2 separate regions of the Homo sapiens genome follow, and region 1 is linked to region 2. Evidence: fine-mapped expression QTL. A gene starts in region 2. The other region holds a variant in brackets. All regions are shown on one strand. Distances are from middle to middle.

Region 1 (5,363 bases), 31 kb after region 2:
TAGCCAGGATGGTCTCGATCTCCTGACGTCGTGATCCACCCGCCTCGGCCTCCCAAAGTGCTGGGACTACAGGCGTGAGCCACCACGCCCAGCCTCACACTTTACAACTTTTAACTCGCTTTGTCCTCCCAGCCACCCCAAGAGGGAGGCACTGTCATCATCCTCATCCTATTTTATAGACGAGGAGAGGGCTGCGTTGTATATTGAAGGTCACAACTCTGTGGCCGTTTGAGTAAATCAAGGCACTGGGACCAAAGCCGGGTCCAGTCCTGTCCTCCACCCGGCAGCAGGGGCCTTCTGAGCCCCTGCCCCTTCCTGGAGGCCTTGTGCTTGGGTCCAGCTTTGCCCTGCCTGGGGTGATGGGAGGGGATAGGGAGGTCTGAAGGACAGAATAGTCAGCTGTAGGCCCAGGTCTCTAAGCTTCTGGGTCAGTGACTTTTTTCTGTGGCCCCTTTTGCCCTCCTGGCTCAGGCGAGGGGAGGAAATGCTGTGATCATTGTGTGAGCTCAGGCACCTGTATGTAGCCCCCAGGCTCTCTCCTTGGCCATTCTGCAAGTAAAACTCTAAAAGTCCAGACTAGAATGGACCTGAGAGCATATCCTGCTTAGTGGCTTTCAAACTTTGTTTGTTTGTTTGTTTGTTTGTTTTTTGAGACAGAGTCTAGTTCTGTCACCTAGAGCTATTTTGGGAGGCCAAGGCTGGCTGGAGTGCAATGTCGCAATCTTCGCTCACTGCAACCTCCACCTCCCGGTTCAAGCAATTATCCTGCCATAGCCTCCCAAGTAGCTGGGATTACAGGCATGCACCACCACGCCCCGCTAATTTTTTGTAGAGACGGGGTTTCACCATGTTGGCTAGGCTGGTCTCGAACTCCTGACCTCAGGTGATCCAGAGCAGCTGAAAGCTGCTGTGGTTGACATTGCCTGCAAGCCCACTGAAGCCTGCCCACTATGGCCACCTCCCCTCATCTGGGGTCCCTGAGGGCTTCTGGAAACCCACTGAAGAGCACTGAGATCCCCCTCATTGAGCACAGAAGGAGAGGAGGGTGACAGAGGGAGGGGACGGGGCTGCAGCCTGTGTGCCATTGGTGGTGGCAGGTGCCACCTCCCTCTCCAGTCTCTGTGGGGGCAGGGGATGTTGGCCCTTCCTGTCACATACTAGAGCTCTGCAGAACCTCTTCCCCTGGGGAAAGAGCTCCTGTTACGAAGTCACTTGATCCCTGCTTGCTTCCGAGATGCCCGGGGTACAGTCGAAGGGAAACCCAATAGCCCAGTTGGCCAGCCTGTGCCCTAGATGGCCATGCAGCTTAGGGAGGTGGCCCACGAAGCCTCCCCACCTTTGAGCAGCAGGCACCCACACCAGCCAGACCCCGAGGGCCAACCCACAGCCTGAGGAGAGGAGGCAGCAGGACCAGGGCTCAGGGTAGGCTGGGCAAGGGGGCGGGGGCCCCAAGAGGGGAGGCATCAGGCTAGGTGTGCCCACTTAGCATATCATTAACAGCTTCATTAGGGGGCCCCTAATGAAGTGGAAGGTACTAATTCTTCACTGAGGCGTTGCCAGCACCCAGACGGAGTCTCCTCTCAAGGAAGTTCTGAGAAGCCAGAGCGCTGGGATTCGTGCTGGGAGCTGATGAACTGCCTGGCAGGGGGGCCATCTGGGGAGTGAGGTCCCAGCAAGTGGCTCCTAGGAGAGGGGGTGACTCTGGGGGGAGGAGCAGAGGGTGGGGCCAGTGGAAAGCTGGAAGGGCAGATGGGCTTAAAGGGAGGGGGGACCGCTACCTCTCAGGGCATCCTGCGTTTGAGCTGGGAAGGGGCCTGCAATGAGACACCCTGAAACTCAAACATGCAAGCTGATAGATGCGGGGCATCCTGGCAGGATCTCAGGCTTTGGAGTGTTCTAGAGTCTTGTGGCCTTGGGCGAGAACTCTGTGGCTCAAGCTGTCCCAGGGGTGTTGGGTCCCCTCTCCCTGGGTGGTTGTGGATTAAAGGAGGCAGTGCCAGTGCGGCCGTGCTGGGCTCCTAGGAGTTGGAGCTCTCCCTTTCCAAGAAGGCAAGTCAGAGGATTATGCAGGCTGGAAGGGTGAGGGCAGGTGTGGGTCAGCCTGCTCACCTGTCTGTTTGGGAAGATTGACTTAGATCGCGGAGAGTTATTGCCCCTGCCATGCAAGGTGAGGTAAAGGTTCTGCGCACACTGGGGAGACATGGTTACTAAATCACAATGATGGCAGCTCCTGTTTTCTAAGAGCTGAGCACTTTATGTGCGTTATTTCGTTAACTCCTCATGACTCACTCACTATGAAGTGAGTACCTTCATTATTCCATCTTACAGATGAGGAGACTGACGCTCAGTGAAGTGACAGTCATAGACAACTAGAAGTGATGGAACTAAGATTCAAATTCGGGCTGCCCTGCTCTGGGGCCAGAAGGCAGGCCTCGGTCAGCTCATTGGATGGCCACCCCCTCCAAGTCGATGCCTTTGAGAGAGTCGCGTTCCCGGGAGAGTGGGGTAAAGACGTGTTAGGGCATGAGGGGACTGACCAAGAAGACCACCGGGGCAGGTAGAAAGGACGAAAACCACAGACACCCTTCCCCACAGACAGGCAGGAGAAAACAGCCTGGTGCCACCCAGTGTGGGGCGGTGTCGGCCTTTGCGTGAGGGCTTGGAGATCCAGGCTGCCCGGCCGCACCCATCACAGAGGCCAGCAGAACCCGCCTGTCTGGGCCTCTCCAGAGGGGATGTGGACGTGTGGGACAAGGGCTTGTTCTGAGTTTCAGAAAAATGAATAATCTCCAAGGAAGAATCCAGAAGCCAGACCTGGTCTGGCCAGAGCCTGGGGGACTCCTTCCACTGTTGGAAAACATTGTCGGAGCACAGGACTGAGTGGGCTCTGATGTGAATCCCCCTGGGAAGAGAGGTCAGAGGAAGGCTGGGGGCAGGAGGAGGGCCCAGCCTGGTCGCCAGGGAAGGGTGCTGCTGCCCTCCTGGCCCTCACTTCCCGCTCCCCAGCAGCCAGCCATCTTTCCAAAATAACCAGCAGGAAACGAAAGGCCTCAATTGATTCCCAGGGAGTTGGCTGGTGTCAGTAGCAGGGCTGGTGGCAGATGGCAAATTCTGCTCATTGTGGATGAGTAGAAAATAATTAGC[G/A]TGAGAACGAGTAGCTGGAGCCTTGGTAATAAATGGAGCCCTGGTGAAGCCTTCTGGGGAGAGGCCTGGAGCACAGGCCCTGCAACCTCAGGCCTGGCTCTGCCGCTGAAGAGCTGAGTGGCCTTGGGCAACTTATTTAGCCTCTCTGGGCCTCCATTTCTTCATCCATAATACAGGGCATAAGAGGTTGTTAAAAGGATTACATTAAAGGAGGTAATTTTTGTGAACTGCTTGTTAAAGTAACCAGCATGTAGTAAATGCTATATAAGAGTTTGTTTTTAAATAAACACGATCGAGTAATTGTTGGAACTATTTCTGGGTCCGGCCCAGGCTGGCATTGCCCCCAAGTCACTGGAGCTTCTCTTTCCGTCCTCCTCCCTGAACTCTGTGCCCAGCTCCCTGACTGCTGTTTTATAGGGGAGGGGTCTCTGGCCAAGAAGCACGAGGAGGGCACAGAGAGAACACAGCAGGTAGACCTGGCTTCAGAGCCTGACTTGGACACTCACTTGCTAGCTTCTTTAAATTCTTGGAGCCTCAGTTTCCCGATCCATGACATGCGAACAGCTAGACCCACCCCTGGGGTTGTAGTGAGGATGGTTATGTGGCTGGCACATGGTGAGGGGTGGAGGAGGTGCCTCCTCTGGTCCTTCCAGGCCATCCTGGGGGAGAGTGGGAAAGGCGTTTGTTAGCCTAAGACCCTGGGCGGCGGGTAGGAGGGGACAAATGTCAGTGGCCTCCCACTCCTGCCCCTGGCTGCACAAGGCACACTGTTTTCATCCCTAGGCCTGGGCGTGTGAGGACCTATCTCATGCTGAAATCTGGCCCCAGTCCTGGGCAGGCTCCGCTCTGCCTTCTGCTCTAGCGCAGCTGATGTGTGAAAAGCGACAGCTTTCAGGCCCCTAACTTGGGTTGCACACACCCAGGTACAGGCTGGTGGCGCACGTGGCCCCCAGCCCACACGTGCTTTCTCTCCGTCGTCTCCCTTGTCACCTCTCCCCTCCTGTGCTTTCAGAGGCCAGCCTCTCGGCCACTGGGAAGAAGGGGAAGGTACTGTAGCCCCGGGAGCCTGGGGTGGGACCTGTGGGTCCTACTGTCTCTGTGTTTGTGACAATAAGGAGTCAGACTGACAGGCAGAGAGGGTATTTTTTTCTTGCAAGTAGTTCAAGGAAGCTACTTGAAATCCCAGCTCTGCGATGTCCTCGTGGAGGGATCTTCGTGCAAACCATTTTGCCTCTCTGAGCCTTGGTTTCTTCATCTGTAAAGTTGGGGTAATACCCTGTGGCCTGATGAGGCTGGAGGTGGATGACACATAGTGTTTCTAGTGCCTTGCTCTCTCCCGACTCCACAGCCTGCTCCGTGGAATTCCCCTGGGCTCAGTTTTCCTCATCTGCAGAATGGGTCCCGTGCTATCCCACATGATTGTGAGTCTGAAGCTAGATGAAGACCCAGAGAGCTCCTCAGTCTGTAAGAAGAGGCTTAGAGCCAGCTTTTGAGTTCAGAAACAGGCATTTAGCTGAATCCTGCTTCTCAGAAACAGCATGCAGAGGTAAAGACCTGGGTTCTGGGCCTAGGCTGTGTGGCTGTGGGCAAGTCACTTCAGCTCATCTGTCAAATAAGGGGAAGGGTAGTACCTACCTCACAGAACTGTTATGAGGACTAGGTGAGTTCATGTTTGTAAAGGGCATAGATGTGCGCCGAGACCTTGTAGGCAATTCATAAATGTTAGGAGAACCGAAGCAGCCCAGTCCCCAACTTATAGGTGGCTGAGATCATTCTGTCCCTGTCACTACCCAGGATCCTGGAGCCTGCAGTTTCACCAGTGCAGAGAGGTTAACTCGCTACCACAGTCCTGCAGCCACAGTGAACAGCTGGAATCTCACCACGACCAAAGCCTGTGCTAAAGAGAGCAGGACCTGTCTGCCAGCCCAGCGAGGCCAGACAGCGACCTGCTGGTGAGCCCACCCTAGCTGGGGTGGAGCCTCTGAACACAACGCCTCTGCTGGGGGGCGGGCCACCAGTGTCCTGCGGGGCACCACTGGGGGGCCCAGCCTCACTGTGCTGAGTCCCGCAGATCAGATGCCCACCCCCAGACCAGATAAGCTCCAGTGCCCAACAAGGCACATTCAAAATCGGATGGACCACGAGAGCATAGCAGGCAGTAGGCATCAGTTCCTCTCCACTATTTTGGACCACCTTCCAATTTCAAAGCCCTTTCACAT
Region 2 (5,363 bases):
ACGCTGGGCCTATTTTTTTTTTTTTTTTTTTGAGACGGAGTCTCACTCTGTTGCCCAGGCTGGAGTGCAGTAGCGGGATCTCGGCTCACTGCAACCTCCACCTCCCGGGTTCAAGCAACTCTCCTGCCTCAGCCTCCCGAATAGCTGGGATTACAGGTGCCCATCACCATGCCCAGCTGATTTTTGTATTTTTAGTAGAGATGGGGTTTCACCATGTTGGTCAGGCTGGTCTTGAACTCCTGACCTCAGGTGATCCACCCGCCTCAGCCTCCCAAAGTGCTGGGATTACAGGTGTGAGCCACCGCACCCGGTCACCTAACATTTATAATAGTGGTGTTTCTCAGCCTTTCATGTGCATTCAAATCACCTGGGAATCTTGTTGCCAACCTGAGATTCTTGGGCCTGAGATTATGCATTCCCGTTAAGCTTCTGGGTGGTGCCAATGTCTCACTCTGAGTAGCAAGAGTTCAAAGGATTTGGTGATGGTAAAAGTAACCCTTTAATTCAGTTAAATGACCAGATGGGATCAATCACCTTGAAGATCTTGAAATAATAGTAGCCTCATGACATCAAGTGTGAAGGTGACTGTTGGTACTTGTCTGGTGAAGACAACTTTGGAGGAATGGGAAGAAGGACTGGCGTGTGTCGGGACACATGTGTGCACATGGACACATGTGAGTTTGTGTACATGGGACAGCTAAGGGATGGATCCGTAGTAGACAGCCTTTTTTTTTTTTTTTTTTTGAGATGGAGTCTGGCTCTCTTGCCCAGGCTAGAGTGCAATGGCACGATCTCGGCTCACTGCAACCTCTGCCTCCCACGTTCAAGTGATTCTTCCGCCTCAGCCTCCCGAGTAGCTGGGATTACAGGCACCTGCCATCATGCCAGGCTAATTTTTGTACTTTGGTAGAGATAGGGTTTCACCATGTTGGCCAGACTGGTCTCGAACTCCTGACCTCAGGTGATCCACCTGCCTCTGCCTCCCAAAGTGCTGGGATTACAGGCATGAGCCACCGCCCCTGGCCGACAGTCTTTGGACTGGCTGTTCAGGTCATGATTCTCCTCCTCTGGGAGTGTCTCTCAACGGGGAAAAGTGGACTGACATGTTTGTATCACAAAGCACTTTCTGCCCTGGCCATAGCTGATTGACCGTGGCCTGATCTGGACTAATAAGATTCTTTTTTTCTGGGAATCGGGAACTTTGAACCAAGAGACATCCAATCTGGCAGTTTTGATTCTGATTAATGGCAATGATCTAGAAAGAAGATCCCTAAACTGATACTGCTACAGTTGTCCCTTAAAGCCTCCCCTGATCTCTGCCCTTCCTGAGCCTTGAGGAATTCAACTCCTCCTTGAATCCCCTGAGGTGCCCCACTGGGTATATGCGCCCACTCCTCATTTTCCTTGTTACCTACGTGAGTTTGCTTTCTAAATAATCACAGGTAACACAGAACTCCTTCCAGAAGTGGCTCCATCTGCTTCAATAAAAGGCAGTCCTGGCCTCACAGTCTCATTTCCAACCCAAATGTCCACGTAATTTTCAGACCGAGGCTTCTGCTCAAGCCGGGCACCCCACTACCCACACCTCCTTGTTCACCTATGGCTCCCACTTCTACTGAACTGCGCGATCACTGTGATTTTGGGGGTGGCAACAGGGCCTAGGAAACATTTTAGAGGCACTTCTCTTGCCTGAAAGAAAACGTTCTTCCCCTTTTTGTCTCTGATGAATCTTTACTGGATCTTTGGGACCCAGCTGAGTCATCCCGACCTGCAGACTGGACTCCCATCCCCAGGCTTAAATTCCTTTCCAAGGGCTCTGTCTGTCCTCTCGGCTTAGCTTCTGTGTTAAAACCCCCTCCATCTGCGTCTCCTCCCCAGCAGAATGAGCTCCTTGAAGTCAGGGCCCGCCTTCTGCTCCTCTCTGTGCTCCACTCCCCCAGTTCAGCACAGTGCTCCCAGGGAGGTGTAAGCGACTTACGGTGAATGAAAGGGCGTGAAGGGGAACAGGAGGGGCGGTTTTCTTCATTTACCAGAAATTCAAAATTGACCAAGTAAACCCCTTTGGAGACCAGGCACGATGCTGGGCACTGGGAACGGGGGTAGGGGTGGGGGGTGGGGGGGTGGTAGGGAGGAGGGGGTACCCAGGGTACCCACGGGCTCTGTCGCCCGTGGGGAAGGATGGGCATTTACCCTTCCCATTCATCAGGATGGGAGGGCCACGGACTCCCCCCACGGCAGTGCCGGGTAGACCCCTGCACCACACCGTGCCAAGGCCCTTTCTCACAGTCACGCCAGGAACTCTAGCCATGCTCTGACTTCTCAAGCAGAGTTCAGTCACCCCGAGGAGGTGGGACCCGTCTCTCTCCTCCCCACAAATGAACCAGTTCTCCAGTGATCCTACTTCCTTTTTTCCCTCTCCCACGCTAAAACTGGTCACGAGGGACCTAAAGGAGGGGCAGGCACCCAGGCGGCTCCCTTCCCCGCACGCATCGCGGCCAGTCCAGCCCCTCCCGGCCGCCCACGGGACCCCAGCCGAGCCTGAGCCAGGCGCCCACCGCCCCCACGCGCAGGGCCGGCGCCCGCGGAAGACTCGGCTCTCCCTGGCCTCGACGCCGCTCCCCTCCCTGGCGCCAGGGGGCGCTGCCTCCCCACGACCGTCGCCATGGTCACCGCTGGCGGCGGAGAGGGGTTTACGTAAAGGACGCAGCGTCCCCCGGGGGGCGGAGGCGGCCTTCGCGCCGGCGCCGGCGCCCTGCGGAAGCGGCGTTAGTGAATCGGGGCCTTGGGGAGCCCAGGATGGAGGTGGCGGTCGCGGCGGCGGGCCGAGCCCTGCGGCGGGCGGGAGGTAAGGGGGGCCTCCGGCGCGGCGGGCCGGTCCTGGGCGCGGGCGCGGTGCGAGCGGCGCGGCGGGCTGGGCAGTGTCCAGGGCGCGCGGTGGCCGGCCCGACGGGTCGGCGGGCGGAGTTGCAGCTGCCACGCGCGCCCGTGGCAGGTGTGAGGTCTGTGGAGCCCCTGGCACCAGCGTGGGGATGGTGACACGCGTGGCACGGGCGTGGGCAACGTGGGTCCGGCACAGGCGGCGTGGTTTTCCTGGAACGGGTCTCAGAAGACTCGCCTCCACCTTGGTGCGGTGGTGGCCACGCAGGTGTGAGGTGGTGCAGCTGTCTGCACAGGTAGGTGATGGGCACGGCCTTCGGACTGGTTATGGGATAGGTGGCCAGCTCGTGCCGGCATGGTGGTGCCGCTAGCATGGGTGTGAGGAAGTGCTGCCATTGCTTGGGTGTTGGGATGGTTCTGGCCTTGGGCTTGACATGATCTGGGGTGATAGCACTGGGGGCTTGAAGAATTGGTGTTCTCAGCATGGCTAGAGTTCCTGGCATGACTGTGAGAAAGGGCCTTGGCACGGTGTGGTGCGGGGGGCTACCCGGCACTGCCGCGGGGGGAGTCCGTGGCCCTCCCATCCTGATGAATGGGAAGGGTAAATGCCCATCCTTCCTCACGGGCGATGAAGGGGACACTGCCTCTGTCATGGGGGTCCAGTTTTAATGCCTGTTGGGTACACTGGACTGAGGAGGGCAGAAGGCTGGGAGAAGGTTGGTGTCCTTTATAATGGGCATAAACAAGAGATGCCAGGAGAAGCTTCTACCACAAGGGCCCTGATGGTAACCCAGATAGAGACCTTCCAGGCACTACCGTTGTCCTGGGCTAAGGTAGAGAGAACCATTCATCTAGCTTTTCATCTAGCTTTGGGAATGAAGGGAGGGGTGGATGATTTTCAGTGGTGATCGGTGTCCCAGAATATGTCCTGAGAAGCAAGCAGGACCAAGAGGTAACCCGGGTCAGCGAGTGAGGGAGTGGTATGGCGCACCATCTATCTGTAGTCACGGGGTCCTGCCTTCTCCCTGGGTTGATGGGTTCACTCCAGGGTATCTGGGAGTTGCCTCTCTTCTTTGATGCTGGGGAGCCTTTGGGTCCAGAGGATTGGATCGATTGGGGTATGCTTGAAAGATGATTCTGCAGCCACTGGGAATCTGCTGGGGCCACCGGGACTCCCACCCCCAGGCTTAAATTCCTTTCCAAGGGCTCTGTCTGTCCTCTCTGCTTAGCTCCTATGTTAAAACCCCTCCATCTGCGCTGAGATTGTGTTTGCTCTCACCAGTCCTTTGGGAAGCTTTGGGTGAAGGTCTCACTCAGCATCACCTAGTGCCTTACTTTACAGAGAAGCAATTTGCAGCTCCTCCTAGAGAAGTCTTACAGTGTAGGGGAAATCTTCAGTTCTTTGTGGATCTCTTGGGGGAGTGGGATCAGTGGTAGAAGAATCACAGGGTTGAGCTTGTGCTGGGGAAGGCACTTATGAGTCCAAAAAGATGATGTTGAGGGTAGGGTGGCAGGTGGTCGCCAAATTGCCAAGGTGGGTGCTTGGAGATGCTGATGAGTTCCCTATAACCGGAGCACTGTCCGATGCCTTTGGAGCCATATCACTTTAATTCCAGTGTTGGCTGTGTGACCTTCAGCAGGTGACTTCACCAATCAAGGCATGTCACATGGTGGTCTGGTAGTAAAGAATGAAAGGAAATGGTGCACGTGGAAACACTTTGCAAACAGCGAAAGACTGTACAAAGGTCAGAGAGTCTCATCAAGTAAAGAGACCAGGGCTGGAGGCAGGAGCCATAGGAAATGGTGGCACGGGATGTGATTGGGAGGAAGGGAGCCGGAAGGTTGAGGGCCTGTCATAGGGAATTAGAGGCCCTGAGCGCACATGCTCCCGGTGGGGGCAAGTGGGATCTGTTGACACTGTGAGTCAGCTGCTGAGCTGGAACCAGGCCCCCGGTCTCCAGAGGACAGTCCTGAGCATGGCCCCGGCAGCTGTGAAGTCCTGCAGGAGTGGCCCAAGCAGGAGGAAGCACTTTGCTTGGGCAGCAGACGTGCCTCATTGCCAGGGTAGGTCTGGGAGGTGTCTGTGGCTGACAGATCTAGGGTACCTGTGTGGGAGGAAGACTTGGGAAGTGTGTGTGTTTTCTCTGGAGAATTTCCTTTGGCTCTGGGTTCTGAGAACGGGGGTGGGGAGCAGTCACATCAGCGTCTTTTGGGCTGTGGCCTGAAGGAAATGAAGTGGGTCAGAGCATCCACAGATCGATGTGGCTCAGGTCTGGATGGTTCTGCGGGAGGTTGAGGCTGGATGGCAGGGGGACGGGGGGGGGAGGTGTGGAGGATGCCCTCAGACACATAGGGGAAAGGAAAGGGGGCTACAGGCACCTCTGAGGGCAGACAGGTGTGGCACCTCTCCCAATGTGGCCCCACTTCTGGCTGAAGTGCCTTCCCAGGTGGGGAGGATGAGGGTGGCTGCACAGTGCTTTGCTCTC

Direction of the effects. Positions count from the first base shown, and alleles are read on the strand shown. Sizes are in standard deviations (SD) of each study's normalised expression.
With allele G in place of A in region 1, the expression in cerebellum of the gene that starts at base 2,732 in region 2 is lower (large effect, 0.94 SD a copy in GTEx).

The links. PIP is the estimated chance that this variant, and not a neighbour inherited with it, causes the effect.
Region 1: its variant is fine-mapped to the expression of DAGLA in cerebellum (GTEx, PIP above 0.99). The same link has a PIP of 0.9 or more in cerebellar hemisphere.

Annotation. Positions count from the first base shown.
Region 1 is chr11:61,708,589-61,713,951 of GRCh38, forward strand. The region is part of intron 1 of DAGLA (diacylglycerol lipase alpha); the gene reads left to right. Among named protein-coding and RNA genes, the nearest start is that of DAGLA, 31 kb to the left of the region's middle. The variant G/A (reference allele first, on the strand shown) is at 3,145.
Region 2 is chr11:61,677,660-61,683,022 of GRCh38, forward strand. It overlaps DAGLA (diacylglycerol lipase alpha), which reads left to right and starts at 2,732. Exons shown (of 20, transcript NM_006133.3): 1 at 2,732-2,845. RefSeq lists an enhancer at 4,929-5,363.